Linked DNA regions of Homo sapiens: regions 1, 3 and 4 are each linked to region 2. Evidence: fine-mapped expression QTL. A gene starts in region 2. Each other region holds a variant in brackets. All regions are shown on one strand. Distances are from middle to middle. Region 1 overlaps PACS1 (phosphofurin acidic cluster sorting protein 1). Region 2 holds the start of CTSW (cathepsin W). Region 3 holds the start of RAB1B (RAB1B, member RAS oncogene family). Region 4 overlaps PACS1 (phosphofurin acidic cluster sorting protein 1).

What was found.
Region 1: its variant is fine-mapped to the expression of CTSW in whole blood (INTERVAL, PIP 0.99).
Region 3: its variant is fine-mapped to the expression of CTSW in whole blood (INTERVAL, PIP above 0.99).
Region 4: its variant is fine-mapped to the expression of CTSW in whole blood (INTERVAL, PIP above 0.99).

Annotation. Positions count from the first base shown.
Region 1 is chr11:66,127,856-66,135,957 of GRCh38, forward strand. All of the region lies in intron 1 of PACS1 (phosphofurin acidic cluster sorting protein 1), which reads left to right. Among named protein-coding and RNA genes, the nearest start is that of PACS1, 62 kb to the left of the region's middle. RefSeq lists an enhancer at 1-146 and a silencer at 8,001-8,050. The variant C/T (reference allele first, on the strand shown) is at 5,001.
Region 2 is chr11:65,875,119-65,883,220 of GRCh38, forward strand. CTSW (cathepsin W) reads left to right here and starts at 4,719. Exons shown (of 10, transcript NM_001335.4): 1 at 4,719-4,823; 2 at 5,084-5,168; 3 at 6,289-6,402; 4 at 7,057-7,211; 5 at 7,312-7,408; 6 at 7,491-7,571; 7 at 7,661-7,786; 8 at 7,951-8,015; 9 at 8,097-8,102. The coding sequence starts at 4,737.
Region 3 is chr11:66,260,820-66,268,905 of GRCh38, forward strand. It overlaps KLC2 (kinesin light chain 2), which reads left to right. Exons shown (of 16, transcript NM_001318734.2): 3 at 923-1,153; 4 at 1,304-1,373; 5 at 1,995-2,217; 6 at 2,841-2,928; 7 at 3,032-3,133; 8 at 3,227-3,400; 9 at 3,526-3,625; 10 at 4,204-4,253; 11 at 4,349-4,416; 12 at 4,836-4,944; 13 at 5,035-5,193; 14 at 5,274-5,398; 15 at 5,614-5,671; 16 at 6,054-7,041. The coding sequence ends at 6,137. RAB1B (RAB1B, member RAS oncogene family) reads left to right here and starts at 7,820. Exons shown (of 6, transcript NM_030981.3): 1 at 7,820-7,874. The coding sequence starts at 7,861. KLC2-AS1 (KLC2 antisense RNA 1) reads right to left here and starts at 4,867. Exons shown (of 6, transcript NR_186327.1): 1 at 4,533-4,867; 2 at 4,324-4,401; 3 at 3,885-4,043; 4 at 2,872-3,061; 5 at 906-1,193. KLC2-AS2 (KLC2 antisense RNA 2) reads right to left here and starts at 7,592. Exons shown (of 3, transcript NR_186342.1): 1 at 7,480-7,592; 2 at 7,236-7,389; 3 at 6,730-7,012. RefSeq lists enhancers at 5,390-6,272, 7,029-7,078, 7,379-7,428, 7,549-7,878, 8,039-8,086 and silencers at 6,529-6,578, 6,599-6,918. The variant G/A (reference allele first, on the strand shown) is at 3,518.
Region 4 is chr11:66,091,872-66,099,973 of GRCh38, forward strand. The region is part of intron 1 of PACS1 (phosphofurin acidic cluster sorting protein 1); the gene reads left to right. Among named protein-coding and RNA genes, the nearest start is that of PACS1, 26 kb to the left of the region's middle. RefSeq lists an enhancer at 7,643-8,102. The variant C/T (reference allele first, on the strand shown) is at 4,693.

The DNA.
Region 1 (8,102 bases), 250 kb after region 2:
ATGTATGTCCTGGTATGTGTGCACACCACCACCTGTGAAGCAGCCTTGCTGCTAAAGTAGACCCCGAGTTTGATAAAACGCCTAGATCTTACTGTGTATTTATAGGAAATACGAGGGATGGAGAAACATTGTAAATGGCTTTTTGGGGATAGAATCAGCAAATTCCAAACTGCATTATAGGATAAACAGAACAGTTTTTTCAACAAATAAATCATAAGGGGAAAAGGTGAGAAAAAAGCCTCTATAGATAAAAAGAGATTGAAGAGATGAATGAACCAATAGTCATATATGATTGATTCAGACAAAATGAAGAAAATGTGAGGCAATCTGGGAAATGTGGACACTGACTGATTATTTGATGGTATTAATGGTATTAAGAAGTTTATTTTATAAAACAAACCAAAAAAGACAAGAGGAAATTTATCTTATATTGAATATTGACAACAAATAATTAAATTTAAAAAATTTGTTAGTTAAGTGTGAAAATTGTGGATACATTTTAAAAGAATATCCTTTAAAGAGACATACATATTGAAATATTTACATATGAAAAGAAATGCTGTCTGTGATTTGCTTCAGAATAGCCCAGGCAAGGGAGTAGGTGGGAGAATCACTGACACAGGACTGGTTATGCATTAAACATCGTTGAAGCTGGGTGTTGGGCAAACTAGGCTCATTCTACTGTTCTACTGTGTATATGTTTGAAAATTTTAGAATTAAATTTTAAAATTTAACAAGTGAGTGAGGGCTGGGCACAGTGGCTCATGCCTGTAATCCCAGCACTTTGGGAGGCTGAGGAGGGTGGATCACCTGAGGTTAGGAGTTCGAGACCAGCCTGGCCAACATGGGGAAACCCTGTCTGTACTAAAATTACAAAAATTAGCCAGGCGTAGTGACATGCGCCTGTAATCTCAGCTACTTAAGAGGCTGAGGCAGGAGAATCACTTGAACCCGTGAGGCGGAGGTTGCAGTGAGCCGAGATCGTGCCACTGTACTCCATCCTGGGCAACAGAGCCGGACTCCATCTCAAAAAAAAAAAAAAATGTGAGTGAGATATCTTGACAAAAGACGGAGTAGTGGTTGCCTGGAGCCTGGGTAAAGGGGTGGCGTGGCTGCAGAGGGGCACAAGGGATCTTTTGGGGTGATGGGAATGATCTGCGTCTTGGCTATGATGGTGATTTCATGGGTACGTACATTTAAACTAATCAAACTGTTCATTTAAATGTGTGTATTTTATTGTATGTAAATTATACTGTAATGTCAATTTAAAAATTGATTAAAGTTAGTAAGAAGGGGCCAGGTGTGGTGGCTCATGCCTGTAATCCCAGCACTTGGGGAGGCCGAGGTGGACAGATCACCTGAAGTCAGGAGTTCAAAACCAGCCTGACCAAGATGGTGAAACCCTGTCTCTACTGAAAATACAACAATTAGCCAGGTGTGGTGGCGCGCACTTGTAATCCCAGCTACTTAGGAAGTTGAGGCAGGAGAATCACTTGTACCTGGAAGGTGGAGGTGGCAGTGAGCTGAGATCGCACCACTGCACTCCAGGCTGGGTGACAGAGCAAGACTCCATATCAAAAAAAAAAAAGGGTTTAAAAAATATTATTATTATTATTATTATTATTATTATTATTAAAATAGAGACGGGGCCTAACTATATTGCCCAGGCTGGTCTCGAACTCCTGGGCTCAAGTGATCCACCCTCAGCCTCCCAAAGTGTTGGGATAATGGTGTGAGCCACTGTGCTTGGCCAGTAAGAAGGGTTTTTGTGTATTATACACATAGTGTGGAATCAGTAGTGTCAGAAGTGTGAGGCACCCAGCACTGCCAGGCAGCAGGGATTACCTGGCTTGTGCTGCATCTTTATTTTTCCCTTCACCTCAAGTTAACTTTATCGTTCATATTTCTGATTTTGCAGTAGTGTCTCTAATTTCTCCTTGCAGCTGTAGAGTCAGCTTGAATTTTGTGATGTTTGTCCATGTGTCTGCCATCCAAAAGGACATGCATTTTTATGCTAGAATAAATGATGTTAGGAGGACATCTACCCATTTATGATAATTCTTTAAACATTCAATTGGCTACATTATAATAGTCAAGCACTAAGGGTACACCTGAGCTGAAAACAATTCAGCTGGATTATAATTTTGATTTATTTTCCATCCAGTCTACCAACCAACCAACCAGTCAGCCAGTCAGCATTTATTGAATGTATTCTTTGCACCATCCCCCGAGTTGGGTTTTGGGTGCATGAGGATGAATATGATACAGTCCTGCCCTTAAGGATGTAACTTTCAGGGTGAGAAGATAGCTGTGTATATGTATAATTTCAGCAGCATGACAAATGCCATGGTCAAAGTGGGTGCAAGATGCAATATAGTAGGCCGCATTTATACATGTTGGCCTCCTCCCTCCCTCCCCTCTAGCCCCCTTCCTTACCTGGTAAGTCAAATGAACCAAATGTCAAACAGTTTGGAAAGGAGAGTTGAAGCAGAAGGAAACTTCCTTCTGCCCCTTTGAATTTGTTACTTTTTCTTCCAATTAAAAATGTGTTATTTTTACAATACCATTATATTGACATTGCAAGGGTCCCTGATGTTTTTATTGTTTTCTGTTGTCACTTTGTATCTCTTCTCCCATTCCCATCCCACTCCCATTAGCATCTTCTCTGATGTGTTTAATATGTATCCTTGGATATATATGTATTCTTACATGGTGTTTTCTGTAAATTTATATAAATAGTATTACATGATAATTCTCATTCTGATCCTTTCTTCATTTAAAACTATGTTTTTCAGTTCTGTTGGTGTTGTGTTTATATGGTGCTTTTAGCCACTGCATTGTATTTTTATTGCTCTGTCTACTGCGTTTTATTTGCCTGTTCCCCTAAGTGACAGACACCTTATTTGTTCTCCCTGTACCACAAACAATGCTCTGTGGGTATAGTGGCTCACACTTATAGTCTCAGAACTTTGGGGAGGCTGAGGCAGAAGGATCGCTTGAGCCCAGGAGTTCGAGACCAACCCGGGCAATGTGACAAAAACCTCATCTCTGCCAGAAATTAAAAACTTAGTTGAGCACAGTGGCATGTGCCTGTGGTCCCAGCTACTTGAGAGACTGGGGTGGGAGGATCGCTTGAGCCCAGGACGTTCAGGCTGCAGTGAGCCTTGATTGTGCCACCACTGCACTCCAGCCTGGGCAACAGAGTGAGACTGTCTCAAAAAAAAAGATAAAACTAAATAAATTAATAAGAAGATCCTCATATATGTCTTCTTACGAACTTGTACAAGAGTTTCTCTGGCTAAATACCAACAAGTATCATTGTTGGGTCACAGAGTATAATCATATTTAATTTCACTAAGTAATGCATGATTGCTTAATTTGTATTTCCACTACTAAGTGCAGTCCTTAGTATTTGACTTTAAAACTTTTGTGAGTTTGGCAGGTTTCACATGTTATTAATATCTTTTTAAACTCACATTTCTCTGATTACTAATGAGCATGGCTAGATTTCTGTATATACTGGGTAGTCTTTGGATTTTCCTTTTATGAATGACCTGGTCATATCATTTTCCCATTTTTCCAGTAGAGTTTCTTATATATTGTAGCTATTAATCCTAAGGCAGTTATAAATGTTTCAGATGTCTTCTTCTGTCCCTCATCTACCTGCTAACTTTGTTTGTGGTGTCCTTTATTCAGCAGAAATCTTTTGTTTTAATTTAGACATTTCCTTTGGTTTTTCCATTTATAAAGATTTGTGCTTTTTGATGTCTTACTTAAGAAATCTTTTCTGGGCCAGGCGTGGTGGCTCATGACTGTAATCCCAGCACTTTGGGAGGCCAAGGTGGAAGGATTGCTTGAAGCCAGGAGTTCGAGACCAGCCTGGGCAACATAGCAAGACTCCATCTCTATGTAAAAAAAAAAGGCATTATCCTGTATTTTCTTCTAATTAGGTTTATATGTGTCTCAAATTTACATCTCCAGTTTGATTTTTTCTCTGATCTCTAAATTTGTATACTCACTGTCTACCTGATAGCCCCACCTAAATATCTAACAGATATCTCAAACTTAGCATTGCTAAAACTTATTTTATCCCTTCCTCATTAAAAAAAAAAAATCTGTTCCTCTCCCAATCTTTATTCATCTAAGTACACTTGTCCCTTGGTATCTCTGGGGGATTGGTTCCACGAGCAGCCCTCCACAATGGATACTGATATAGGTTAGCTGTGTGTCCCCACTCAAATCTCATCTTGAATTGTAATCCCTGAGTGTTAAGGGAGGAACCTGATGGCAAGTGACTGGATTATGGGGGCGGTTTCTTCCATGCTGTTCTTGTGACAGTGAATGAATTCTCACAAGATCTGATGGTTTTATAAATGGTGCTTTTTTCCTGCGCTCTCACACACCTCTGTCTCCTGCCACCATGTGAGACAGTCCATGCTTGCTTCCCCTTCACGATGATTGTGAGTTTCCTGAGGCCTCCCCTACCTTGTGGAACTGCGAGTCAATTAAAACCCTTTCCTTTATAAATTACCCAGTCTCATGTAGTATCTTTATAGCAGTGTGAAAACGGATTAATACAGATACCAAAATCCACAGATGCTTAAGTTCCTTATATAGTGACACTGTATTTGCATATAACCTACACACATCCTCCCTCGTACTTTAATCTCTTGAATACTTATAATAGTTAATACAATGTAAATGCTATGTAAATTGTTGTTATACTGTATTATTTAGGGAATAAACAAGAAAAAAAAAGTCTGTACATGTTCAGTATAGATGCAACCAGCCTTTTTTTCCCCCTAAATATACATATAGGTACATACTTCTTGAGATGGAGTTTTACTCTCTTGCCCAGGCTAGAGTGCAGTGGTGGGATCTCTGCTCACTGCAACCTCCGCCTCCCAGGTTCAAGCAATTCTCATGCCTTAGTCTGCTGATTAGCTGGGATTACAGGCACATGCCACCACGCCCAGCTAATTTTGTATTTTTAGTAGAGA[C/T]GGAGTTTCACCATGTTGGCCAGGCTGGTCTCGAACTCGTGACCTCAAGTGATCTCCCTGCCTTGGCCTCCCAAAGTGCTGGGATTACAGAAGTGAGCCATGGCACCTGGCTTTTTTCCTAAATATTTTTGATCCATGGATATGGAACCTGTGGGTACAGAGGGCCGACTGTAAATGGTGCTGCCTTCCACCCTGTTGCTCAAGCCAAAAACCCCGGAGTCATCTTTGCTTCTTTTTCATGCTCTGTGTGTGCAATCTATCAGCAAGTTCTATACATTCTGACTCCAGAAAATTTCTGGAATCTGTCCTGGGCACTTTATGGCCTCCTGCTGCTACTCTAACCCGTGTCACCTGTCTTCGTATAGCCATTATTACTCTGCTTTGCAGAGTTTATTTGTTGCATTTATTCATTAAAGACTCTCACCTCAGCTTTATAGCTAGTTTTGCAAGATAGAGCACTAGGTCTGGCTAGCCATATGCTGCCAGATGGAGGAGCTGAGTTTTTTTCCTATGTTCTGCTCCTTGGCTTCACTAGTGGCTGCTGGAGGCATCACTGTGCACAGATGCTTGGGGCAAAGGATCTTGCCAACCTCGATGCAGGTCACTGGAACAGCTGATAATGTCCGTGGTTTATAACCTGATGTAGATCCAGAGATGTCATTGAAAGATTTTTGCCTGCCAGCAGGTCTGAGTCTGAAGACCATGCCCAGGCTGGGGTGGCGCTATCATAGCTCACTGCAGCCTCCGATTCCTGTGTTCAAGCTGTCCTCCAGGGTAGCAGGAACTATAGGCACACACCACTACACCCAGCTAACTTTTCAATTTTTTTGTAGAGATGGAGTTCCACATCTGTCGGTCAGACTGGTCTGAAACTTCTGGCCTCAAGCGATCCTCCTATCTCAACCCCCCAAAGTGCTGGGATTACAGGTGTGAGCCACTGCGCCCAGCCAGACTTTTTTGTTAAATGTACCTTAAAGCAATGCTTTCTTCTTTTTTTTCCCATCACAAATTTAATTATTTATAAAAATATCTAATGGAAAGAAACTGGATTAGCAAGCCAGACAGATACTTGTCCTGGCTAAGTGTGATACTGGGCAAGTTGTTGACTTCCTTCTTCAGATGCCTGTGATATATACCCCATGTTTATTCTAATTTCTTAAAGATATGAGAACCTAGCTCTAACATAAGCATGAAATGCCTATTCCTGAGGCATTGATCACATTGTCATTGTTCCAGGTTCCTCTCTGTGCTCCCTGAAATCCCCATTAGCGTAATTCCCCACCATCCCCTTGTGCGGAGTCCACTGCCCCACTGTGCTGCTGCCCTCGACTGTTGTGAGGCCGGCTGAGTTTCAGTAACAGGGACTCGGTGATTAAATTTCTTTTTCTTTTTCTTTTTCTTTTTTTTTTTTTTTTTTTTTTTTTGAGACGGAGTCTCGCTCTGTCCCCCAAGCTGGAGTGCAGTGGAGCAATCTCGCTCGGCTCACTGCAACCTCTGCCTCCCAGGTTCAAGTGATTCTTGTGCCTCAGCCTCCCTAGTAGCTGGGACCTACAGGTGCCTGCCACTACACCTGGCTAGGTGATGAAATTTCTTCAGCTTTCTCTGGCCCTCCCTACTTCTAGGATCCAAATGACACGCTACGTATCGTTGCCATTTCTGATTTGGATGTACAAATATAGGGACAGATGGGTTTGTGTTTGTTTTTGATGTATTTTTTTTTCTCTCTTAATCTGGCTGTAAAAGCATTTCCAATGGCTTATAGTTTAGTATGTGTTCCCAAAGTGGGAGCAGCCTGTACATATGGAAGTCCAGTTGGGTAGGGCTCCCTGTACCCTGGCGCCAGGGCGTTGTTCTGACCGATGGTGCCCCCTGATGGCCAGTGTAGAAACTTGGTCACGGTGTCATCTTTTTCTCACTATCACTGGGGATTCCCTTCACTCCCCAGCAATTACTCACTTTTATTCTGTCTTGAATCTTAGATAATTATGCCGGAGATAATCCTTCTTATCTCCTCTTTGGGTTTCTTGTTTCTTCCTTATTTATTGCTCTCTTACCTCAAAAATATCTTATTTCAGCCAAGTGCAGTGGCTCACGCCTGTAATCCCAGCATTTTGGGAGGCTGAGGTAGGTGGATCACCTGAGGTCAGGAGTTCGAGACCAGCCTGGCCATCATGGTGAAACCCTGTCTCTACTAAAAATACAAAAATTAGCCAGGTGTGGTGCTACTCCAGCTACTTGGGAGTCTGAGGCAGGAGGATGGCTTGAACCCGGGATGTGGAGGTTGCAGTGAGCTGAGGTCACATCGCTGCACTCCAGCCTGGGCAATAGAGATAGACTCCATCTCAAAAAAAAAAATCTTATTTCTTCTCACCACTCATTCTTTTCATTATATTTTGAACTAAAAGCTTGTCCTGGTAATGGCTAAAGAGTACTTAGTGGTGTGTCCATATCAAAAAGAAAGGAAGCCCTTGATTTTGAAGAGAAATTAGAAGCCACGCTAAGGACTCATGGTTGCCATCTTCACGAGCTCTGAGATAGGTAAGGCACGCCCTTCAGAATCTTTATGGGTTTTTGTTAGCTCCTCAGCTTTCTCCAACTAAAATTGCTTTGGCTTAAGCTTTAGAACTCAAGATAAATGAAAGTTCTTCATTTTAACTTTAGTTGATAAATTACTAGTATTACAGAGCGATTTTCTGTGTGGAAAACATGCCAGCACTGTCACCCAGACACACTGTGCACAGGTTCAGCATGTACCATGGCTGCCTGAGGCCTGCCCTCATCCCTGCTGGCCTCCTCTCCTGCGCTTTTTTTTTTTTTTTGAGACAGAGCCTTGCTCTGTCACCCAGGCTAGAGTGCAGTGGTGCAATCTCAACTCAGTGCAACCTCCACCTCCTGGGTTCAAGCAATTCTTCTGTCTCAGCCTCCCGAGTAGCTGGGATTACAGGTGCCTACCACCATGCCTGGCTAATTTTTGTATTTTTAGTAGAGACGGGGTTTCACCATGTTGGCCAGGCTGGTCTCGAACTCCTGACCTCAAGTGATCCACCCCACTTGGCCTCCCAAAGTGCTGGGATTACAGGCGTGAGCCACTACACCCAGCCT
Region 2 (8,102 bases):
TTCACCGTGTTAGCCAGGATGGTCTCAATCTCCTGACCTTGTGATCCGCCTACCTTGGCCTCCCAAAGTGCTGGGATTACAGGCGTGAGCCACCGCGCCCGGCCAATATAGGTGAATTCTTGAAACTACTATGTGAAGTGAAAGAAGCCAGACACAAAAAGCCACATATTCCATTTATTTTTTATTTTTTTTAGATGGAGTTTCGCTCTTGTTGCCCAGGCTGGAGTGCAATGGCATGATCTCAGCTCACCACAATCTCTGCCTCCTGGGTTCAAGCAATTCTCCTACCTCAGGCTCCGGAATGGCTGGGATTACAGGTGCCTGCCACCACACCTGGCTAATTTTGTATTTTTAGCCGAGATGGGGTTTCACCATATTGGTCAGGCTGGTCTCGAACTCCCGACCTCAGGTGATCCACCCACCCTGGCCTCCCAAAGTGCTTGGATTACAGGCGTGAGCCACCGTGCCTGGCCCACGTATTCCATTTATATGAAATAACCAGAATAGGCAAACCCAGAAAAACAGAAAGTAGATTAATGGTTGCCAGAGGAAGGTGGGGAATGGGGAGTGTCTGCTAATGGGGTCTGGGTTTTCTTTGGGATAATGAAAATATTCTAACACTAGATAGTAGTGATGGTCACACAACTATGCAAACATACAAAAACCCACTGAATTGTACACTTCAAAAAAGTGAATTTTCTTTGGGAGGCCGAGGCGGGTGGATCATGAGGTTAGGAGATCAAGACCATCCTGGCTAAGACAGTGAAACCCCATCTCTACTAAACAAATTAGCCTGGCGTGGTGGCAGGCGCCTGTAGTCCCAGCTAATCGGGAGGCTGAGGCTGGAGAACGGCGTGAACCTGGGAGGTGGAGCTTGCAGTGAGCCGAGATCGCGCCACTGCACTCCAGCCTGGACGACAAAGTGAGACTCTGTCTCAAAAAAAAAAATGTGAGTTTTATAGTATGTAATAATACCACAATAGGCCAGGCACGGTGGCTCACGCCCGTAATCCCAGCACTTTAGGAGGCCAAGGTGGGTGGATCACCTAAGGTCAGGAATTCCAGACCAACTTGGCCAACATGACAAAACCCCATCTCTACTAAAAACACAAAAATTAGCGGGCTATGGGGGCGAACGCCTGTAGTCCCAGCTACTCAGGAGGCTGAGGCAGGAGAATCACTTGAACCGGAGAGGTGGAGTTTGCAGTAAGCCAAGATCGTGCCACTGCACTCCAGCCTGGGCAACAGAGCAAGACTCTGTCTCAAAAAAAGGAAATATAAAAAAAGGCAGGAAAGGGGTGCTGCTATCACCCCATTTCACAGATAGGGAGGCTGAGAGACTTGTCCCAGGTGAAGGATGGGACTTGCACTCATGTCCCACGGACTTCAAGACTCGCTGGGCTCCTTGCCCCATATTAGAGCATTAAGGACCCGCCCTGCAAACACCCACTCTGTGCCAGCCACAGTGGTGGGTGCTCCACTAAGTATCTTCCACTCAAGCCTCAGCCTGAGAATTGTCATTGCCAATTAGAGATGAAGACATGAGGCCCAGGGGGGATGACTTAGTGCACAGCTGGTGCACAACCTAGACCTGAACCTCCATCTTTGCACTATCCAGCCCGAGTGAGCCTTCCACTTGGAGTTGCCTCCTCAGAATGCCTCCCTCGTCCTCTGCACCCCCAGTGACTTTCCCTGCCTTCGCCTGCTCTGCACTGGGTCCCTTTCAAGGTCCCAGACACCACTGGATCAGTGTCTCCCTCCTACCAAGCAGGGAGCTCCTCTCAGGCAGTGAGGCCCCTGTGCCCATGGCCCAGCCCTTACTGGGTACCAGCTGGGATCTGCAGAGTAGGCAGTTGAATGAACAAATGAGTGAGTGGGTGGAGGAAGTTCATTGATTCACTCAACAAATGTTTTCTCGGCCGGGTGCAGTGGCTCACGCCTGTAATCCCAGCACTTTGGGAGGCCAAGGCAGGTGGATTGCTTGAGGTCAGGAGTTTGAGACCAGCCTGACCAACATGGTGAAACCCTGTCTCTACTAAAAATACAAAAAGATTACCCCAGCATGGTGGTGCACACCTGTAGCCCTAGTTACTTGGGAGGCTGAGGCAGGAGAATTGCTGGAACCCGGGAGGCAGAGGTTGCGGTGAGCCGAGATCGTGACACTGCACTCCAGGCTGGGCGACAGAGTGAGACTCTGTCTCAAAAAAACAAAGCAAAACAAAACAAACAATGTTTACTGAGTGGCCACTGTGAAGCAGATGCTGTGGTGCTAGCCAGGGACACAGCACTGACCAAAAACAGACCCAAACCTCCTGGCCTCAGGAGCTCTAGTTCAAGGGAAGGGAGGAGAGGATCAAAGGGAAGGCCACTGGGCCCCACACCTCCAGTTCCTTTTCCCCGTGGCCTCCCACATCCCCTACCATCACAAGAGGCCCACACTGGGACCTCCACCTCTGAGGGCTGACATGGAGCCTTAACTATCAGTCACACACAGGACAAGACTGGCTGGGGCCCATAACTGGGCTCTAGAACCACAGGGCCAGGCACCACTCTGGGGATGGTCTGTCCACTGCATTTCAATAAAGGCAGCAGCATGCTTTTCAGATAGAGAAGCCCCTTGGTTTACTCTCTGGGCAGGGTGACAAAGTGTGGCCTCACGACTCTGGGAGGAATCCTAATAAAGAAACATGGTAGGCCGGGCGTGGTGGCTCACGCCTGTAATCCCAGCACTTTGGGAGGCCGAGGCGAGCGGATCACGAGGTCAAGAGATCAAGACCATCCTGGCTAACATGGTGAAACCCTGTCTCTACTAAAAAATACAAAAAATTAGCCGGGCGTGGTGGCGGGTGCCTGTAGTCCCAGCTACTCGGGAGGCCGAGGCAGGAGAATGGCGTGAACCCAGGAGGTGGAGGTTCCAGTGAGCCGAGATCGCACCACTGCACTCCAGCCTGGGCGACAGAGCGAGACTCCGTCTCAAAAAAACAAACAAAAAAAAGAAACGCAGTAGTGAGCATGTAAGTGAATAAATCCCAGGATTATAGCTGTCCTGTCTCCCACCCCATGGAACCCTAGAAAGCCAGCTCTTCACACCCTTCTCTGGTCTTGGTCACCAGTTCTCAGCCTGAACTCCTATAGGGGAGGTCCCCAGCCCAAGGACCCACTTAGAACAAAGGCAGCAGTAACGGGTGTTAATGCTGCTGCCCAGCCCTTGACCTCACAAGTCAGGCTTTGGCCTCCCTCCGTCTGTGATGCTCACCCTGTTATCCTTCTGGCTCTTCAGCCCCCTCATCCTCATCCCTAGACCGTGGGAGGGATGAGGAACGGGAGGCACTGGCTGCAGTTGCTGCTCCCGGACTCTGACTCTGCGCTTTCCTGTTTTGTTTTGTTTTTTGAGATGGAGTTTCACTTTTGTTGCCCAGGCTGGAGTGTAATGGTGCGATCTCGGCTCACTGCAACCTCCACCTCTCAGGTTCAAGTGATTCTTGTGCCTCAGCCTCCCGAGTAACTGGGATTATAGGCGCCCGCCACCATGCCCAGCTGCTTTTTTGTATTTTTAGTAGAGACAGGGTTTCACCATGTTGGCCAGGCTGGTCTCCAACTCCTGACCTCAGGTGATCCACCCGCCTCGGCCTCCCAAAGTGCTGGGATTACAAGCGTGAGCCACCGTGCCTGGCCTGGTTTTGTTTTTTTGACACAGGATCTTGGACCCACGCTGGAGTGCAGAGGCATGATCATAGCTCACTGCAGCCTTAATCTTCCAGGCTCAAGCAATCCCACTGGCCTCAGCCTCCCCAGTAGCTGGGACTACAGGAGAGCACCACCATGCTTGGCTAACTTTTTTTTTTTTAAGTAGAGATGAAGCCTTGCTCAGTTGTCCAAGTTTGTCTCCAACTCCTGAGCTCAAATGATTCTCCTACCTTGGCCTCCCAAAGTGATGAGATTACAGGCATGAGCCATTATGCCCGGCCTGCTTTCCTGTTTAAAACTCATGATGATCAATTGTTCAGTCAACAAACACCTAGCGAGCCTGACTCATGCCTAGCCCTATCCTGGGAACCGAGGACACCGAGGACACAAGCGAACTGAACACTTCTGGTGTGGTTGGAGGCAGATGCCCAATGGGCACAGGTGCAGCTGGGCTGAAGGGGCTGCAAAGCTTCTACCAGAGGTTGGGGAAGCAGGGAAGGCTTCTTGAAAGAGGCGGCCATTGAGCTGACTGAGCTTCATAGGATGAGCAAGAGTGGTTCCCTTGGCTGGGCGCAGTGGCTCATGCCTGTTATCCCAGCACTTTGGGAGGCTGAGGCAGGTGGATCACCTGAGGTCAGGAGTTGGAGACCAGCCTGACCAACATGGTGAAATGCTGTCTCTACTGAAAATACAAAAAATTCGCTGGGCATGGTGGTGCATGCCTGTAGTCCCAGCTAGTCGGGAGGCTGAGGCAGGAGAATTGCTTGAACCCGGGAGGTGGAGGTTGCAGTGAGCCGAGATCATGCCACTGCACTCCAACCTGGGTGGAAAAAAAAAAGAAAGAAAGAAAGAAAGAAAAAGGGGTGGGATGGGGAGCAGACAGGCAGGGACTGAAAGCCTGAAGGCCTGAGCAACTTGTGGGTTCTAGGGGTCCACCCTCCACCCACCAAGCCTGTCTTCCCCTTCGTGGTTTCTCCAGCCCCACCCTCACACCGTCCTCCTCGATCTGCGCGGCTTCCTGCCTCCATGCCACTCCAGACTGCACCGGCATGGCACTGACTGCCCACCCCTCCTGCCTCCTGGCCCTGTTGGTGGCAGGCCTAGCCCAAGGCATCAGAGGCCCCCTTAGGGCCCAGGTAAGTGCTCCCAAACCCTTACCTATGCCAGTCCCACGCCTGGGGTCACCCCTTCAGAAACAGCTGGCCTGTCATTCTCATTTTTCAGAGGGAGTTGCTGAGGCTGGAGAGGGGGCTGACGTGCCCAAGGGCACATGGGAAGACAGAAAAGGCTAACTGGCTGACCCCTAGCCCAGTCCTTGCACGGCTGGGAACTAAGGTGGGGCCCCAGCAATGATTCCTCTGCCCACTGCCCCTCTCCACCCTTGGTTCCTTGCCAGGACCTAGGTCCCCAGCCGCTAGAGCTGAAAGAGGCCTTCAAGTTGTTCCAGATCCAGTTCAACCGGAGTTACCTGAGCCCAGAAGGTATCACAGGGCACATACATCTCCAGTCCAAGCCCCCACTTTTTTTTTTTTTGAGACGGAGTTTCACTCTTGTTGACCAGGCTGGAGTGCAATGGTGTCATCTTGGCTCACTGCAACCTCCACCTCCCGGGTTCAAGCGATTCTCCTGCTTCAGCCTCTGAGTAGCTGGGATTACAGGCATGCGCCACCACACTTGGCTAACCTTTACATTTTTAGTAGAGATGGGGTTTGACCATGTTGGCCAGGCTGGTCTTGAACTCCTGACATCAGGTGATCCGCCTGCCTCGGCCTCCCAAAGGGCTGGGATTACAGGTGTAAGCCACGGAGCCCAGCCATCCCGCTTTGTAATAGATGAAGAAATCGAAGCTCAGGGTGGGGAACAGGCATGGCCAAGGCCACTCAGCAGGACAGGCCAGGGCTGGGGGTGTGTTCCCTGGTTTCCCGAAGGCATGAGTGGGTCCAGGATCATTCTTTGCTATGGATCTGGAGGGCAGTGGCAGGAGGTGGGGTCCTGCCCTAGTCCTACGTGATCCCCTGGCTCCACAGCCACTTCCCTGCGATTCTAGGCAGTGGACAGGGGGCCACCACCTAGTCATTTGCTCATTCAGCAAACACCCAAGGACACCCATTTTGTCCCCACATTGGGGACTTCTTCTCTAGCCCATGATCTAACCCCTGCCCCTGCCCTCTCGCTGTGCTGATCTCTCTAGGGGGCTGATCTGTGTGTGCCTTTTAGCCCAGACTGCCTGTGCCTTGTCATCTCCTCTCCCTGCCATGTTCCAGCTCTCCTCCTGTGGTCAGAGGTGTAAAGGACGTGGCCTGGCAGGAAGCTGGTCTCCAGCCACACATCCTTGAGTCACCACCACCGGACCCCTTGCCTGGCTTCCCACCTAGGGTGGCCAGAGATGGTCCTCTGGCTGCCTCTGGGGAAAACCCAACCCTCGGTGGGCTGGGTAACCACTTCCTGGGCCTGGGTATCTGCAGTGGGGCCTTGTGGGGGCTACAGGAAAGGAGCCAGTGCTCAACTGGGTGGGTGTGGGTGGAAGGGTGCCCAGCCAGCGGCTACTTCCTGCCCCTAAGGGCTTGGGAGTCAGCCTAGGACAACTCCCTTTTGGTCCAGAGCATGCTCACCGCCTGGACATCTTTGCCCACAACCTGGCCCAGGCTCAGAGGCTGCAGGAGGAGGACTTGGGCACAGCTGAGTTTGGGGTGACTCCATTCAGTGACCTCACAGGTACCATTAACCCTTCTGGCTCGTAGGTGGTGGTTGGGAAGCGATCTCCCCAGGGACACTGGCAGCTGGACCCAGCGGACCTTCAATTTTTACTTCCCAGGGAAGGAAATTCATTTCCCTGAGGACCAGGGGCTTGGGTGCTGGTATCAAATCACCCAGTGCAGGGGCAGAATCTCTGCAGTCCTGTGTCCTAATCCAGCCTAGGGGCCAGCGCAGCAGCTGCAGGGAAGCACCCAGCAGGGAGCCCAGCCTCTCTAGGCTTGGCACCCTTGCCTTTTTGAGACAGGGTCTTGCTCTGTTGTCCAGGCTGCAGTACAATAGTGCAATCACAGCTCACTCAGCCTCCACCTCCTAGACTCAAGCAATTCCCCCGACCCCTCAGCCTTCTAAGTAGCTGGGGCTACAAGCCCGCACAACCACGCCCAGCTAATTTTTCTACTTTTTGTGGAGATGGGGTCTCGGACTCCTGACCTCAAGTGATCCACCCACCTTGGCCTCCCAAAGTGCTGGGATTATAGGTGTGAGCCACCACGCCCGGCCTATCCTTGCCTTTTTGCCCCTCAGGGAATTATGGGACCAACAGCTGGAGTGGGAGAGGCAGAACAGGGAGAAGGGGTCAAAATGGAGACCTCAGTGGCCCTGTCTGTTCCCCAGAGGAGGAGTTTGGCCAGCTCTATGGCTATCGGAGGGCAGCTGGAGGGGTCCCCAGCATGGGCAGAGAAATAAGGTCTGAAGAGCCAGAGGAGTCAGTACCTTTCAGCTGTGACTGGCGGAAGGTGGCCAGCGCCATCTCACCCATCAAGGACCAGGTATCTGCCGCTACCCAGCTGGCTCTAATTCAGCTAAGTGGTGGGAGGGAGAGGGGCACGGCCCGAACACCTAGCCCCGCCCCACCCTCTCGCCCTCCAGAAAAACTGCAACTGCTGCTGGGCCATGGCAGCGGCAGGCAACATAGAGACCCTGTGGCGCATCAGTTTCTGGGATTTTGTGGATGTCTCCGTGCAGGGTAGGGTTGGGAGAGGGTGCGCGTGTGACAGGGGAGGGAGGCCTAGGGGCCTGGTCACCCACACTGTCCCTTCTTGCACCAGAACTGCTGGACTGTGGCCGCTGTGGGGATGGCTGCCACGGTGGCTTCGTCTGGGACGCGTTCATAACTGTCCTCAACAACAGTGAGTGCACTGCCCCGCCACTCTGGACATCTGCAGGGGGACAGGGTGGGCAGGAGCGGAACCTCCTCCCTTGTCTTGCTTATCTGCAGGCGGCCTGGCCAGTGAAAAGGACTACCCGTTCCAGGGCAAAGTCAGAGCCCACAGGTGCCACCCCAAGAAGTACCAGAAGGTGGCCTGGATCCAGGACTTCATCATGCTGCAGAACAACGAGCACAGTGCGGGCAGGGCAGGGACACGGGCGGATGGCAGGGACAGACACCGGGGCAGAGGCAGACACGCTGGGCTACTGGGCTAGAAGACAAGAGGGGGTGGGGGGAGCGAAGGAGCGAGAGACCCACACACCCACATGCCAAGGGTCTGATGATGTTCCTGTCCCCAGGAATTGCGCAGTACCTGGCCACTTATGGCCCCATCACCGTGACCATCAACATGAAGCCCCTTCAGGTGAGATGGGGGAGCTGATGGGGAAGGGGCATACAGGAGACTTGGCCCCACACTCAGCCCCTCGGCCCCCACCCCCTGCAGCTATAC
Region 3 (8,086 bases), 390 kb after region 2:
ATCCTGACCTCGTGATCTGTCCGCCTCAGCCTCCTGAAGTGCTAGGATTACAGGCGTGAGCCACCGTGCCTGGCCAAAAAATTTTTTAAATTAGCCAGCTGTGGTGGTGTGCACCCGTAGTCCCAGTTACTCAGGAGGCTGAGGGGGAAGGACCACTTGAGCCTGGAAGGTAGAGGCTGCAGTGAGCTGTGACGGTGCCATAGCCCTTCGGCCCAGGTGACAGAGTGAGACATTGTCTTAAATTAAAAAAAAAAAAAAAAAAGAGAGAGCAAGAAGGGAGGTTGGACCCTAGGCAGGAAGGCAGGAAGAGACTGGAAACTAAGGAAAGGAGTTGCAGAGGCTGGGGAGAGGGGTGGGGGTTGAGGCCAAGGCCTTTGGATACTTTTCCTGCCCCTGTGGCTCCTCATGCCAACTGAGCATTTGGGACACATGCCCCTTCCCTACCTGGGAGCTGCAGAAAGGCAGGGGATGCTGTGGCCCCTCAGCAGAAGTGGGGATGGAGTCTTTGGGTGGTCCTTCAGCCATCTAGCAGAGTTCTGTGGGCAAGCGCTAGCCCTGAGGCAGGGAGCAGTAACCTACTGGCTGTGGCAGCAGAGGCTTGAGTACAACCCAGGGAGAGACGAAGGAAGGGGCTAGTAGCTCAGGGAAAGCACAGCACCCCAACTAGCCCTTTTGGGGTTCTCCTGATCCTAGAAGGAAGGAACTGGGGACTCCCAAGCCTCCTGGGTTTGGGCTTTGCATTATGGTGTGTCGGGGGCCTTGAGGAGATTCTCCCTTGACAAGCAGAGAAAAGACCTGCAGCTCCTCACTGTAGGGCCAGGCCTGGCCCTTCACTGGGTGCCAGAGCCCAACTAGGCCCAGGCTACAGTCATAGGCGAGGGGGTCGACAGGCCTCCGACCCTTACCTGGGCTGGTTGCACAGGTGATCTTGGCATTGTCGAGCCACCTGGGGGCTGTAGAATCAGAGAAGCAGAAGCTGCGGGCGCAGGTGCGGCGTCTGGTGCAGGAGAACCAGTGGCTGCGTGAGGAGCTGGCGGGGACACAGCAGAAGCTGCAGCGCAGTGAGCAGGCCGTGGCCCAGCTCGAGGAGGAGAAGCAGCACTTGCTGTTCATGAGCCAGATCCGCAAGTTGGATGAAGACGCCTCCCCTAACGTGAGCTCCTACCATGGTCACTGTTGCCCAGCAAGGAGGCCTGGGAGCAGGGAGGGGCAGCATGGAGCAGATTCGGCTCCACCCCAGCCCATGGACACCCCGGCTGCCCTGTGCCTCCTTCCCTGATGCTCATCCTGTCTTCCTTCCCAGGAGGAGAAGGGGGACGTCCCCAAAGACACACTGGATGACCTGTTCCCCAATGAGGATGAGCAGAGCCCAGGTGCGGATGGGCAGTTCTGGAGTGGGGGAAGGAAAGGTTGTGTGAACTCTTGGTCCTTGGGACCGAGTGGCTGCCATGTTCCTTCCTGCCTCACTTCTGATCATGACATCCTAGTGTGTTAGAGCTTCAAGAACAGTTGTACGTGCTGCTGCTTCTCACATCCCCCCAGCTCTGTGGTGAGCAGACATCACAATTAGCTGTGGAGTCACCAGCCTGGCTTCCAGTGCTGCTCTGCCACTAGCTTCCCTGACCCTTGGGAGAGTTCTCTTCCTCTCCGAATCACCTCTGAAGGAGGCACATGCAGACAGCCACAATGGGGCCAGTGCCTGCTTTGCTGATGGTACTGGTTATGCATCGGGGCCTCCACTCTGTACACAGGGACACAGGCTCAGAGGTTAGGCAGCTTGCCCCAGGACACAGAGCCTGAAGTACTGGAGCTGGGCCTCTACCCCCTCTTTCTATGGGGTAACTAGACCCATTCTATAAATGGGGAAACTGAGAAAGAGTGGTTAGTGACTTGCCCAGGGCCATGTGTCAAGTGGCTCAAAGGCACAGCTGGCATGTGCCATCCCAGTCCAGTGGGCAGATGGTACATCTGACCTCCTGCCCTTGGCCCTGCAGCCCCTAGCCCAGGAGGAGGGGATGTGTCTGGTCAGCATGGGGGCTACGAGATCCCGGCCCGGCTCCGCACCCTGCACAACCTGGTGATCCAATACGCCTCACAGGGCCGCTACGAGGTAGCTGTGCCACTCTGCAAGCAGGCACTCGAAGACCTGGAGAAGACGTCAGGCCACGACCACCCTGACGTTGCCACCATGCTGAACATCCTGGCACTGGTCTATCGGTGAGGACTCTCTGGGGGTGCCCAAATTCTTCTGGAAGGCTCCAGCCCTGGATCACTAACCCTTGGTGCCTGCTGTGGGCCAGGACTCGTGGCCCACCTGCGTGGAGCTGGGCTACAGATGCAAGTAAAACTGTCTAGTGTAAGAGAGAGGCTTGGCCAGAACTGGGGAGGGACTGCACATGAGGACTCCAGGGGTCCTGGGGAGTCCACACAGCTTCTCCAGGCACCAAGGCTGGAGGAGGGGCTTTGCCAGAAAGTGAGTTTGCCCAAACACAAGAGGGCTAGAAAAGGTTCCCATGGCAAAAAGCCAGCATGAGCAAAGGCACTGGGACCTGGAGAGCAGGACACGCTAAAGGGGCAGCAGGAGAGCCATGTGGCGCCCAGGAATGCTAGGCACCAGGCAGTCGGTGGGACCCCAGCACTGCGCACCCCAGCCAATTGTGAGAAAACTGCCTACAGCCCTTGGAGCTTGGAGAGCAGGAGCTGAGCAGGTCTCCCCACACTCTGGGTCTCACTCTGTCATACACACTCAGTGAGTACAGGAGTGACCACAGGGATTGCAGACCATTGGGGAGGGCCTTGAGCTGGAGGACAGCCCTGACCATGCTCCTACCTGCTCCCAGGGATCAGAACAAGTACAAGGAGGCTGCCCACCTGCTCAATGATGCTCTGGCCATCCGGGAGAAAACACTGGGCAAGGACCACCCAGCCGTGAGTGAGGGTTGGGTGGGAGGTGGGGGCTGTGCCCCATCCCCTGCAGGTCCCAGAGTCCTGCAGGGCCTGAGTCAAGAAGCTTCCGTTCTCCCACCTCCAGGTGGCTGCGACACTAAACAACCTGGCAGTCCTGTATGGCAAGAGGGGCAAGTACAAGGAGGCTGAGCCATTGTGCAAGCGGGCACTGGAGATCCGGGAGAAGGTGGGAACAGGCAGGGCTGGGCAGGCTGGGGGTCTGGGAGGCAGGGGCCCGGGCAGCCCTGAGCCCAACCCCTGGCTCCCTCTCCCATCCCAGGTCCTGGGCAAGTTTCACCCAGATGTGGCCAAGCAGCTCAGCAACCTGGCCCTGCTGTGCCAGAACCAGGGCAAAGCTGAGGAGGTGGAATATTACTATCGGCGGGCACTGGAGATCTATGCTACACGCCTCGGGCCCGATGACCCCAATGTGGCCAAGACCAAGAACAACCTGGTACCTTGGGGCTGAGAGGAGCTGGAGGATGGGAAGGAGGGAGGCAGGGATGAGGTTGGGGAAGAAGGAGAGAAAAAGGCTTGGCTGCATGCATCCCGCTCACTCTCTGGGTCTCCC[G/A]CTTCCAGGCTTCCTGCTACCTGAAGCAGGGCAAGTACCAGGATGCGGAGACCTTGTACAAGGAGATCCTCACCCGCGCTCATGAGAAAGAGTTTGGCTCTGTCAATGGTGAGTGCGTGGTCACCAGGTGCCTCTAGCCCATCCATCCCAGGCCCACTCTGCCATCAGCACCCAGGACAAATCCCTCAGCAGGGCAGGCCCTCAGGCTTTGGCCTGGCTGGTCACCAGCCTCACCCTCAGATGGTGCCCAGCCACCTGTGCTCACGTTTGCACACATGAGCACACACCCAACTCACGCAGCCCCCTTGGCCTGCTAGGGCCTCACACGCCTTTGCATCCCCCTTCTCCACTGGCGATTCTTGCTCACCTTGAGGGCCTGCCCCAGTGTCTCCCACTCTGGGAAACCACCTCTGGCCCCGGATGGTCAGTCATCTGCTCCTGAGTCCCTCGGAGCCTGGCCCATCATTCAGGCCTAGCACATGTCTTGGGCTGTGGCCTGAGGTGCAAGGGTCTGTTCTGCTCATCTCTGTCCAGAAGAGGGTCAGCAGTGTTTTGGGTCTTACTCTTGTTCATGCATTCAACGAAGCCCAACCGTGGTCTCCCCTCCCCTGACCCCAGTCCTGTGTCCAGCCCAACCAGGTGAGACCTATATGGTAGGCTGGTGACAGTCCCCTTTCTCTCCCCAGGGGACAACAAGCCCATCTGGATGCACGCAGAGGAGCGGGAGGAAAGCAAGGTAGCTCTGTGGGGCAGGCTGGGCGGTTGTCAGGGGAGGCTGGGATGTGCAGAGGGGGGCCTGCTCTCACTTCTTGTGACCATTCTTTCCTCCAGGATAAGCGCCGGGACAGCGCCCCCTATGGGGAATACGGCAGCTGGTACAAGGCCTGTAAAGTAGACAGGTGAGTGGGGCGGGGCTGGGCTGGGGAGCAGGGCACGGCAGGGCGGGCTCCACATTCCATACTCTCACCCCCAACACACCCCTCCTCTGCTGCTCATCTGGCAAGGCCCAACTCACAGGTCACCTGTCCCAAGAAGGCTCTGTCTCCCAATTCTCAGCCTAATTCTCTGGCTCTGGGTCTCCCAGCTTTTGGTCCTGGTGACAACATCCCATGAGGGCCCTGGGGCCAGGTCCCCAGCCCTGGGGTGATTTCCCCAGGACAGAAGAGGCTGGGTGGGCCCAGCACAGGGCTTGACATGGGAAGGAATGGATTCTGGCTACCCCGGAGGTCCATGCTTCCTCAGGGCCCACTGTGGGCTGGGTGCCAGGATGGGCCCTGGGTCTGGGGGAACATGGAGTTTGAGACTGTCCCATCCACAGCCCCACAGTCAACACCACCCTGCGCAGCTTGGGGGCCCTATACCGGCGCCAGGGCAAGCTGGAAGCCGCGCACACACTAGAGGACTGTGCCAGCCGTAACCGCAAGCAGGTGGGGCTCCATGCAGGAGGGGGTGGGCAGACACCTGTGTGGCCCTGGGTGTGGTCCATTCACTGCCTGATGCCCCTGCCCCTCCCTCAGGGTTTGGACCCCGCAAGCCAGACCAAGGTGGTAGAACTGCTGAAAGATGGCAGTGGCAGGCGGGGAGACCGCCGCAGCAGCCGAGACATGGCTGGGGGTGCCGGGCCTCGGTCTGAGTCTGACCTCGAGGACGTGGGACCTACAGCTGAGTGGAATGGGGTGAGTCCGGGGCCTGGGCCGGGTCGGGCTGGGAGCCTAGGTGGCCAGCGGGGCCTAGAGGCAAGCCTGTCCACCTGCAGGATGGCAGTGGCTCCTTGAGGCGCAGCGGTTCCTTTGGGAAACTCCGGGATGCCCTGAGGCGCAGCAGTGAGATGCTGGTAAAGAAGCTGCAGGGGGGCACCCCCCAGGAGCCCCCTAACCCCAGGTGAGCCCCCCACCAAGGTGAGCCTCAAGAACCACCCAGCAACCCCGGATGAGCTCCTGACCCAGAGTGTGCCCCACTGACCCCAGGCAACCTCCCCATCCCTCTCAGGCTCCACCACCCACCAGTCTGTTCCCTCCCCAGCCCCACCCTTCTCCCTGCCCCCATCTCCCGTGAGTTCCTCCTTGGGCAAATCCCAGGCTGTCCTTTTCCCTCAGGATGAAGCGGGCCAGTTCCCTCAACTTCCTCAACAAGAGCGTGGAAGAGCCGACCCAGGTAGGGGCAGGCGGGTGTCTGGGCACTGGGCAGCTGCGGCCGGGGCTGCATGCGTGCTGCCAAGCTTCCCTCCAGCATGCCTCTTCATCCAGCAACAGTTCCTGGCTCTGTCTCAGGCCTACTTTGGGCTGGACAACGGGGAGACACGAGGGGAACCCAGCCTCTCCTGGGGGTGGACGTGTAAACGGCCAGTGCTAACACCGTCACTGTGGAGATGGACGGGAGTGTCAGGGCACCAGGGTGTGGCCTTGGGTCAGAACTGCCATTGCCTCTGCCCAGCTCAGGGATTCCGGCTGCCTCTGCCAGGTCAGACCCCTTCAGGCCAGGGAGGCACAGACTGGCAGCAGCACAGGGCTGAGCCACCTGCCCCCTCTGCCCACAGCCTGGAGGCACAGGTCTCTCTGACAGCCGCACTCTCAGCTCCAGCTCCATGGACCTCTCCCGACGAAGCTCCCTGGTGGGCTAATGCTGAAGGGGCAGCCAGTCACCAGAGCGCCCACCTGGCACACCCCCCTCACCCCAGCCCTGCGCATGGGCCTGCTGCTTGTCCCGCCTGTCTCTCCCACAGCCCCTGTCTTTTCTGTTCAATCTCAGGGTAACCTTCTCCCTTGTCATCTCAGCCTGAGCCCTGGAGGCTGGGCCTGCCCACTCCAGCTCCATCCCTTATTTATTCCTTCCAGCAGGGCCCTCTTCCCTAGGTTCGGGCCAGCAGGAGGTGCCGGCTGGAGTCTCCACCATAGACTCAGTGGCCTGGCCTCCCCAGACCCCAGAGCCAAGAACACTAAGCACTCGCCGGCCCTTCGGCACCCTCGCCCTCCCTCCCGACTCAACCCGGCCGTTGCTTCTGTATATAGAGAAATAAGTTATTGGCCGCGCGCCTCCCTTCAGTCCACGGTACTACCCGGGCCTCCCCTCGTCCCTCTTCTAGTGGTACCGCCCAGGCCTTAATCACCCCCATTCCGTGCGGTGGTATCTCCCAGGCTCTACATTCTCGGGAGCGGCGCCTCCCAAGGGGGTCCTGGGACCTTCTCGCGCTCCTCCTGGCCTCTGAGGGATGCGTCCTACCCGCGCCATCGCCCCGTGGCCCAGGACGGGGACCTCCCCTTAGTCCGTCCTCCCACCGCCGGGCCCTGCCCCGCATCCCGGCCTTATGCACTGCCCCTCCCACCCGGCCCCGCCCAGGCACGGCCGACCCCGCCCCGGGCACCGCCCACCGAGCCATCCTGCCTCGCCTCCCCCCACGCCTGCAGCTTCTCGCGAGGGGCGGCGACGGTCCCCTGGTGGCAGGAGGGGCTCCCCCTGTTGCGGGTGAGGCGGCTGCTCTCATATTTTCAGATGTTGCTGTAGAAATAAAGACGGTTTAAATCTGAGCTGGGCTTGTTTTGAGACGGAGGTCGGGGGCCCCCAGCGTCTCTAGACTGGGGTGGAGCCGGGAAGGGTCGTGCGTGAGTGGGGGACAGTGTGTCTCGCTCAACCGCTGTCCGCGCAGCTGGGCCCAGATATTGTGCCCCACCCCGGAATTGCGTGAGGGGCCCACAAGTCAGGCTTTCCCTAAAACACTCACTTGTGGGGTTCTGGAGACCGCGGGCTCTTATGAGCTCTGCTCCTCACAAAGTTTTTGACCTTGAGTGAGTTTCCCGAGACTCAGTTTTTTCATCTATGAAATGCGGGTGATGACGCGCGGCTGCGAGTTAGGACTGCCCAGTACACGAAGAACCCTGGACAAATGTACTTTTATTAGTCTTACTAGAACCCACATTCTCATTTAATGTTCACAACGTGGGTATTGGGAGGGCAAGGATGACTACCTCCGTCAGACAGATGTGAAACGTGCCAAGCCCAGCCCTAAATTGAGCTTTCTAAACACCGAGTCGCGGTCAGGCTTTCCAGCACTGTCCTCAAGCCTGAGTGCGTCCGGAGTGCAAACTACAAGCCCCAGAAGGCAATGCGCCAGCAGTGATGGGAGTGGGCGCGGAGGCGCGGGCTCCCCGACTACGCCTGCGCAGCGGGGCTGAGTTGGAGAACGTCTTAGACTACAAGTTCCGGGAATCAGCGCGGCGAGGCCTGAGAAGAAGACGTTTGCGCCTGCGCGTCGCGGGCGGGGCCTCTGGGGCGGAGCGGCCACCATCTTGGAACGGGAGGCGGAGCAGAGTCGACTGGGAGCGACCGAGCGGGCCGCCGCCGCCGCCATGAACCCCGAATAGTGAGTGAGCCCCGCCCGCGCCGTCCAGCGCAGCCTCGATCCCGAATACAGGGCTGTACGCTTACCGGGGTTGTCTGGCCCGGGTCAGGACTGTGCGGCGCCCCCACATCCGGGTCCCTCTTCCGCTGACCCCCCCCCACATCCGGGTTCTGCCCCTCCCCCCAGGGGCCCCAGGACCCCGGCTCAAAACCCCGAGCCCTCGCACCCGGGGC
Region 4 (8,102 bases), 220 kb after region 2:
TAGTATTCCATGGTGTATATGTGCCACATTTTCTTAATCCAGTCTATCATTGTTGGACATTTGGGTTGGTTCCAACTCTTTGCTATTGTGAATAGTGCTGCAATAAACATACGTGTGCATATGTTGTTATAGCAGCATGATTTATAGTCCTTTGGGTGTATACCCAGTAATGGGATGGCTGGGTCAAATGGTATTTCTAGTTCTAGATCCCTGAGGAATCGCCACATTGACTTCCACAGTGGTTGAACTAGTTTACAGTCCCACCAACAGTGTAAAAGTGTTCCTATTTCTCCACATCCTCTCCAGCACCTGTTGTTTCTTGACTTTTTAATGATTGCCATTCTAACTGGTGTGAGATGGTATCTCATTGTGGTTTTGATTTGCATTTCTCTGATGGCCAGTGATGGTGAGCATTTTTTCATGTCTTTTTTGGCTGCATAAATGTCTTCTTTTGAGAAGTGTCTGTTCATGTCCTTCGCCCACTTTTTGATGGGGTTGTTGGTTTTTTTCTTGTAAATTTGTTTGAGTTCACTGTAGATTCTGGATATTAGCCCTTTGTCAGATGAGTAGGTTGCGAAAATTCTCTCCCATTTTGTAGGTTGCCTGTTCACTCTGATGGTAGTTTCTTTTGCTGTGCAGAAGCTCTTGAGTTTAATTAGATCCCATTTGTCAATTTTGGCTTTTGTTGCCATTGCTTTTGGTGTTTTAGACATGAAGTCCTTGCCCATGCCTATGTCCTGAATGGTAATGCCTAGGTTTTCTTCTAAGGTTTTTATGGTTTTAGGTCTAACGTTTAAGTCTTTAATCCATCTTGAATTAATTTTTGTATAAGGTGTAAGGAAGGGATCCAGTTTCAGCTTTCTACATATGGCTAGCCAGTTTTCCCAGCACCATTTATTAAATAGAGAATCCTTTCCCCATTGCTTGTTTTTCTCAGGTTTGTCAAAGATCAGATAGTTGTAGATATGCGGCGTTATTTCTGAGGGCTCTGTTCTGTTCCATTGATCTATATCTCTGTTTGGTACCATGCTGTTTCGGTTACTGTAGCCTTATAGTATAGTTTGAAGTCAGGTAGCGTGATGCCTCCAGCTTTGTTCTTTTGGCTTAGGATTGACTTGGTGATGCGGGCCCTTTTTTGGTTCCATATGAACTTTAAAGTAGTTTTTTCCAATTCTGTGAAGAAAGTCATTGGTAGCTTGATGGGGATGGCATTGAATCTATAAATTACCTTGGGCAGTATGGCCATTTTCACGATATTGATTCTTCCTACCCATGAGCATGGAATGTTCTTCTATTTGTTTGTATCCTCTTTTATTTCATTGAGCAGTGGTTTGTAGTTCTCCTTGAAGAGGTCCTTCACGTCCCGTGTAAGTTGGATTCCTAGGTATAAAGAGTCAAGACCCATCAGTGTGCTGTATTCAGGAAACCCATCTCACGTGCAGAGACACACATAGGCTCAAAATAAAAGGATGGAGGAAGATCTACCAAGCAAATGGAAAACAAAAAAAGGCAGGGGTTGCAATCCTAGTCTCTGATAAAACAGACTTTAAACCAACAAAGATCAAAAGAGACAAAGAAGGCCATTACATAATGGTAAAGGGATCAATTCAACAAGAAGAGCTAACTATCCTAAATATATATGCACCCAATACAGGAGCACCCAGATTCATAAAGCAAGTCCTGAGTGACCTACAAAGAGACTTAGACTCCCACACAATAATAATGGGAGACTTTAACACCCCACTGTCAACATTAGACAGATCAACAAGATAGAAAGTTAACAAGGATACCCAGGAATTGAACTCACCTCTGCACCAAGCGGACCTAATAGACATCTACAGAACTCTCCACCCCAAATCAACAGAATATACATTTTTTTCAGCACCACACCACACCTATTCCAAAATTGACCACATAGTTGGAAGTAAAGCTCTCCTCAGCAAATGTAAAAGATCAGACATTATAACAAACTGTCTCTCAGACCACATTGCAATCAAACTAGAACTCAGGATTAAGAATCTCACTCAAAACCACTCAACTACATGGAAACTGAACAACCTGCTCCTGAATGACTACTGGGTACATAACAAAATGAAGGCAGAAATAAAGATGTTCTTTGAAACCAACGAGAACAAAGACACAACATACCAGAATCTCTGGGACGCATTCAAAGCAGTGTGTAGAGGGAAATTTATAGCACTAAATGCCCACAAGAGAAAGCAGGGAAGATCCAAAATTGACACCCTAACATCACAATTAAAAGAACTAGAAAAGCAAGAGCAAACACATTCAAAAGCTAGCAGAAGGCAAGAAATAACTAAAATCAGAGCAGAACTGAAGGAAATAGAGACACAAAAAACCCTTCAAAAATTAATGAATCCAGGAGCTGGTTTTTTGAAAGGATCAACAAAATTGATAGACCGCTAGCAAGACTAATAAAGAAAAAAAGAGAGAAGAATCAAATAGACGCAATAAAAAATGATAAAGGGGATATCACCACCGATCCCACAGAAATACAAACTACCATCAGAGAATACTACAAACACCTCTACGCAAATAAACTAGAAAATCTAGAAGAAATGGATAAATTCCTCGACACATACACCCTCCCAAGACTAAACCAGGAAGAAGTTGAATCTCTGAATAGACCAATAACAGGCTCTGAAATTGTGGCAATAATCAATAGCTTACCAACCAAAAAGAGTCCAGTACCAGATGGATTCACAGCTGAATTCTACCAGAGGTACAAGGAGGAACTGGTACCATTCCTTCTGAAACTATTCCAATCAACAGAAAAGGAGGGAATCCTCCCTAACTCATTTTATGAGGCCAGCATCATCCTGATACCAAAGCCGGGCAGAGACACAACCAAAAAAGAGAATTTTAGACCAATATCCTTGATGAACATCGATGCAAAAATCCTCAATAAAATACTGGCAAACCGAATCCAGCAGCACATCCAAAAGCTTATCCACCATGATCAAGTGGGCTTCATCCCTGGGATGCAAGGCTGGTTCAATATACACAAATCAATAAATGTAATCCAGCATATAAACAGAACCAAAGACAAAAACCACATGATTATCTCAATAGATGCAGAAAAGGCCTTTGACAAAATTCAACAACCCTTCATGCTAAAAACTCTCAATAAATTAGGTATTGATGGGACGTATCTCAAAATAATAAGAGCTATCTATGACAAACCCACAGCCAATATCATACTGAATGGGCAAAAACTGGAAGCATTCCCTTTGAAAACTGGCATAAGACAGGGATGCCCTCTCTCACCACTCCTATTCAACATAGTGTTGGAAGTTCTGGCCAGGGCAATTAGGCAGGAGAAGGAAATAAAGGGTATTCAGTTAGGAAAAGAGGAAGTCAAATTGTCCCTGTTTGCAGATGACATGATTGTATATCTAGAAAACCCCATTGTCTCAGCCCAAAATCTCCTTAAGCTGATAAGCAACTTCAGCAAAGTCTCAGGATACAAAATCAATGTACAAAAATCACAAGCATTCTTACACACCAATAACAGACAAACAGAGAGCCAAATCATGAGTGAACTCCCATTCACAATTGCTTCAAAGAGAATTGTTGTTGTTTTGAGACGGAGACTTACTCTGTTGCCCAGTCTGGAGTGCAGTGATGTGATCTCCACTCACTACGAACTCAATCTCCTGGATTCAAGTGATTCTCCTGCCTCAGCCTCCTGAACAGCAGGGGTTACAGGCACATGCTACCATGCCTGGCTAATTTTTGTATTTTTAGTAGAGACGGAGTTTCACCATGTTGGCCAGGATGGTCTCGAACTCCTGACCTCAAGTGATCCACCCGCCTTGGCCTCCCAAAGTGCTGGGATTACAGGCGTGAGCCACCACGCCCGGCCTCATTATTGCTTTTATTTTTAATCAAAGTTATACATATATTTTAGAGAGTCACGTAGTTTTACAGACTTATTTAGAAAACAATCTTTAGGTATTATCTGGTGAATTCCAGCTGTCGAAAACTGTTTGGCTTTTTCATCAGCACCCACATTTTCCCAATAAGTTTGTAATTTCTTCTTTTTTTTTTTTAAATTTTTGAGATAGAGTCTCACTCTGTTGCCCAGGCTGAAATGCAATGGCGTGATCTGAGTTCACTGCAACCTCCACCTCCCAGGTTGAAGGAATTCTTCTGCCTCAGCCTTCTAAGCAACTGGGATTACAGGCATGCACTACCATGCTCAGCTAATTTTTTTATTTTAGTAGAGACGGGGTTTTGCCAATTGCCCAGGCTGGTCTTGAACTCCTGCCCTCAAGTGAGCCACCATGCCTGGTTTTCTTTTTATCTTTTTCTTTCTTTTTTTTTTTTTTTTTTTTTTTTGATGTAGGGTGTTTCGCTGTGTCACCAAGGCTGGAGTACAGTGATGGCTCACTGCAGCCTTAACTTCCCAAGCTCAAGTGATCCACCTGCCTCAGCCTCCCGAAGTGCTGGAATTAGAGGTGTGAGCCACTGCGCCCAGCTAGTAGTTCATTCTTTTTTATTTCCAAGTATTTCATTGAAACATGATATAATTTGCATATCCATTCTCCTGTTGATGGACATATAGGTTCTTTACAGCTTTTAGCTTTTATGAATAAAGTTGCTATGAATTTTTTTTTTTTTTTTTGAGACGGGAGTTTCACTCTTGTTGCCCAGGCTGGAGTGCAATGG[C/T]GTGATCTTGGCTCACTGCAACCTCTGCCTCCCGGGTTCAAGCGATTCTCCTGCCTCAACCTCCCTTGTAGCTGGGATTACAGGCATGCGCCACCATGCCTGGCTAATTTTTTTTATTTTGTGGAGACGGGGTTTCTCCATGTTGGTCAGGCTGGTCTCAAACTCCTGACCTCAGATGATCTGCCCACCTCGGCCTCCCAAAGTGCTGGGATTACAGGCCTGAGCACCGCGCCCAGCCGCTGTGAACATTCTTACACAGGTGTTTTTACAGACATACATTTTCATTTCTCCCTCTCTCTCTCTTTTTTTTTTTTTTAATGTAGAGACAGTCTCGCTTTGTTGCCCATGCCAGTTTTGAACTCCTGGCTTTGTGGAATCCTATTGCCTCACACTCCCAAAGTGCTGGGATTACAGGCATGAGCCACCACGCCCAGCCCCATTTTCATTTCTTTGGGGGTACATATGTTGGAGTGGAATGGTGTGTCTTAGAGTAGGTGTATGTTTAAACTTTGTAAGAAACTGCCAATTTTTTCAAAGTGATTGTATCAGTTTGCATTCCCACTAACTGAGGCAGACAGATTCTGAAGTGGCCCCCATGATAAATACCCCCTGGTATTTATGGCCTAGTAGTCCTGTGCCCTTGGGTGCAGGTGGGACCTGTGATTGACTCCTCACTGATAGAATATGGCAGAGGTGACAGGATGTGTATGGTCATGCATACCTGATTATTCCCAGTCAGATCGTAATGCTCATCTTGTGAGGAGACTCTCTCCCTTGCTGGCTTTGGTGCTGTGTTGTGAGCTGCCTATGGAGACGGCCCTGTGGCAGGGAGCTCAGGGCAGCTTCAAACCCACAGCCAGCAAGAGACTGTGGCCCTCAGTCCAGCAGCCCACAAGGAATTGAGTGTTGCCAACAACCATGTGTGTTTGGAAACAGATCCTATCCCACTCAGTTCTCAGATGAGACCATAGTCTCAGCCAGTACCTTGGTGGCACCTTATAGAGGACCCAGCTAAACTGTGCCTGGGCTTTTGACCTATAGAATCTGTGAGATAATAAACATGCATTAGTTTAAGCTGCTGCTAAGCTTTGCTAGTATTATTATGCTACAGTGGATAACTAATACGAGCAATATAGTTCCTGTTGCCCTGTATCTCCACCGACATTTAGTGCCTGTCTTTTAGATTTTAGCCATGTTAGTGGGCATGAAATGGAAACTCTGAGGCTTTAATTTGCATTTCCCTAATGACATTGAATACCTGCTAATTGGACATTTGGATACCTTCTTTTGCGAAGTATCTGTTCAAGTCTTTTTCTTATTTTAAAAATAGGTAGGTTGGGCATGGTGGTTTACACCTGTAATCCCGGCACTTTGGGGGCCAAGGTGGGTGGATCGCCTGAGCTCAGGAGTTTGAGACCACCCTGGCAACATGGTGAAACCTCGTCTCTACTAAGATACAAAAAATTAGCTGGGCATGGTGGTGGGCGCCTGTAGTCCCAGCTACTCAGGAGGCTGAGGCGCAAGAATCACTTGAGCTCGGGAGATGGAAGTTTCAGTGAGCCCAGATCATGCCACCACACTCCAGCTTGGGCTACAGAGTGAGATTCCGTCTCAAAAATAATAAAAATAATAAGAGTAAGAATAATCAATATGTTTGTCTTTTTATAATTTATTTGTAGAAGTTCTTTATATATGACGGGTTAAGTTCTTTATCAGATGTGTGTGTGTGTGTCTCTGCATGAATGTGTGTTGTATGTTTGTGTGTGTATCTGATAGAGTTTTCTTCTAGTCTGTGATGGGGAGGAACTTGCACATTCCTCTCACCTCATGCAGATTTCCAAACTGTTCACGTTTTACTGCATTTACTCTATTGTACTATTTCTCTCTCTAAATCAGTTTTTTCTGGGTCATTTGAGACCATGTTATGCACATGCTATCCTAGCACCCTTAAATATTTCAGTGTTTATTTTCCGCCAGTTAAGGGCACTCCCAAATAACCACTACATACTCCTTTAAGTCAGACAATTTGCAGTGATAAAACCCTATTGTCCAATCTATTGACCCCATTCACAGTTTGCTGCCCCAACTATATCTCATTTCTGTTTTGTCCCAGAATCCCAGGGAGGAGTGTGCATTGCACCTAGCTGTCAGCGTCTCTTCACACCCTCCAGTCTGGGATCATCCTTTGTCATCCCGGTTGTTCTTGTCCACAACCGTTAGATATCCTGTAGGGTGATTGGCAAGGCGGATCTTATAGTATTTCCTTATGACCAAATTCAGGTCATGATTTCTTGGCAAAAGTATCACAAAAATGATGCTGTAATAGTCTCAGCACATCACATCAAGGGGCACATTCTGTTAACCAGCCCTGTTACTGCTGTTGTTGGCCCTCATCACCTGCTCATGTTGGTGTCTTCCAGGTATCTCTGTTTTTCTTACTGTAATGCCATTGTTTTTCTTTTCTTTTCCTTTTCTTTTTTCCCTTTTCCCTTCCCTTTTCAATGGAGTCTCACTCTGTAGCCCAAGCTGGAATGCAGTGGCACAATCTCAGCTCACTGCAACCTCCGCCTCCAGGGCTCAAGCAGTTCTCCTGCCTCAGCCTCCAAAGTAGCTGGTACTACAGGTGCATGACACCACACCGGGCTAATAGTTATTGATTTATTTATTTATTTATTTTTGAGACAGAGTGTCGCTCTGTCGCCCAGGCTGCAGTGCATTGGCACAATCTCTGGTCACTACAAGCTCCGCCTCCCAGGTTCACTCCATTCTCCTGCCTCAGCCTCCCGAGTAGCTGGGACTACAGGCGCCCACCACCACACTCGGCTAATTTTTTTGTATTTTTAGTAGAGATGGGGTTTCACTGTGTTAGCCAGGATGTTCTCAATCTCCTGACCTCGTGATCCACCCTCCTCGGCCTCCCAAAGTGCTGGGAGTACAGGCATAAGCCACCGTGCCCAGCCTATCACTTTCTATATCATTTTCTTTTTTGGGGGGGTTTTGAGGGCAGGGTCTGGCTCTGTCTCCTAGGCTGGAGTACAGTCGCTCGATATCAGCTCACTGCAACCTCCGCCTCCTGGGCTCAAGTCATCCTCCCACCTCAGCCTCCCGAGTAGCTGGGACCACAGACATGTGCCACCATACCCAGCTAATTTTTGTATTTTTTGTAGAGTTGGGATTTTGCCATGTTATTCAGGCTGGTCTTGAACTCCTGAGCTCAAGTGGTCTACCCACCTTGGCCTCCCAAAATGCTGGGATTATAGGCATGAGCCACCATGCCTGGCCTATATCTGTTTTTGTTTTTTGAGATGGAATTTTGCTCTTGTTGCCCAGGCTGGAGTGCAATGGCGCAATCTCGGTTCACCACAACCTTGGCTTGCTGCAACCTCGGCTCACTGCAACCTCCGCCTCCT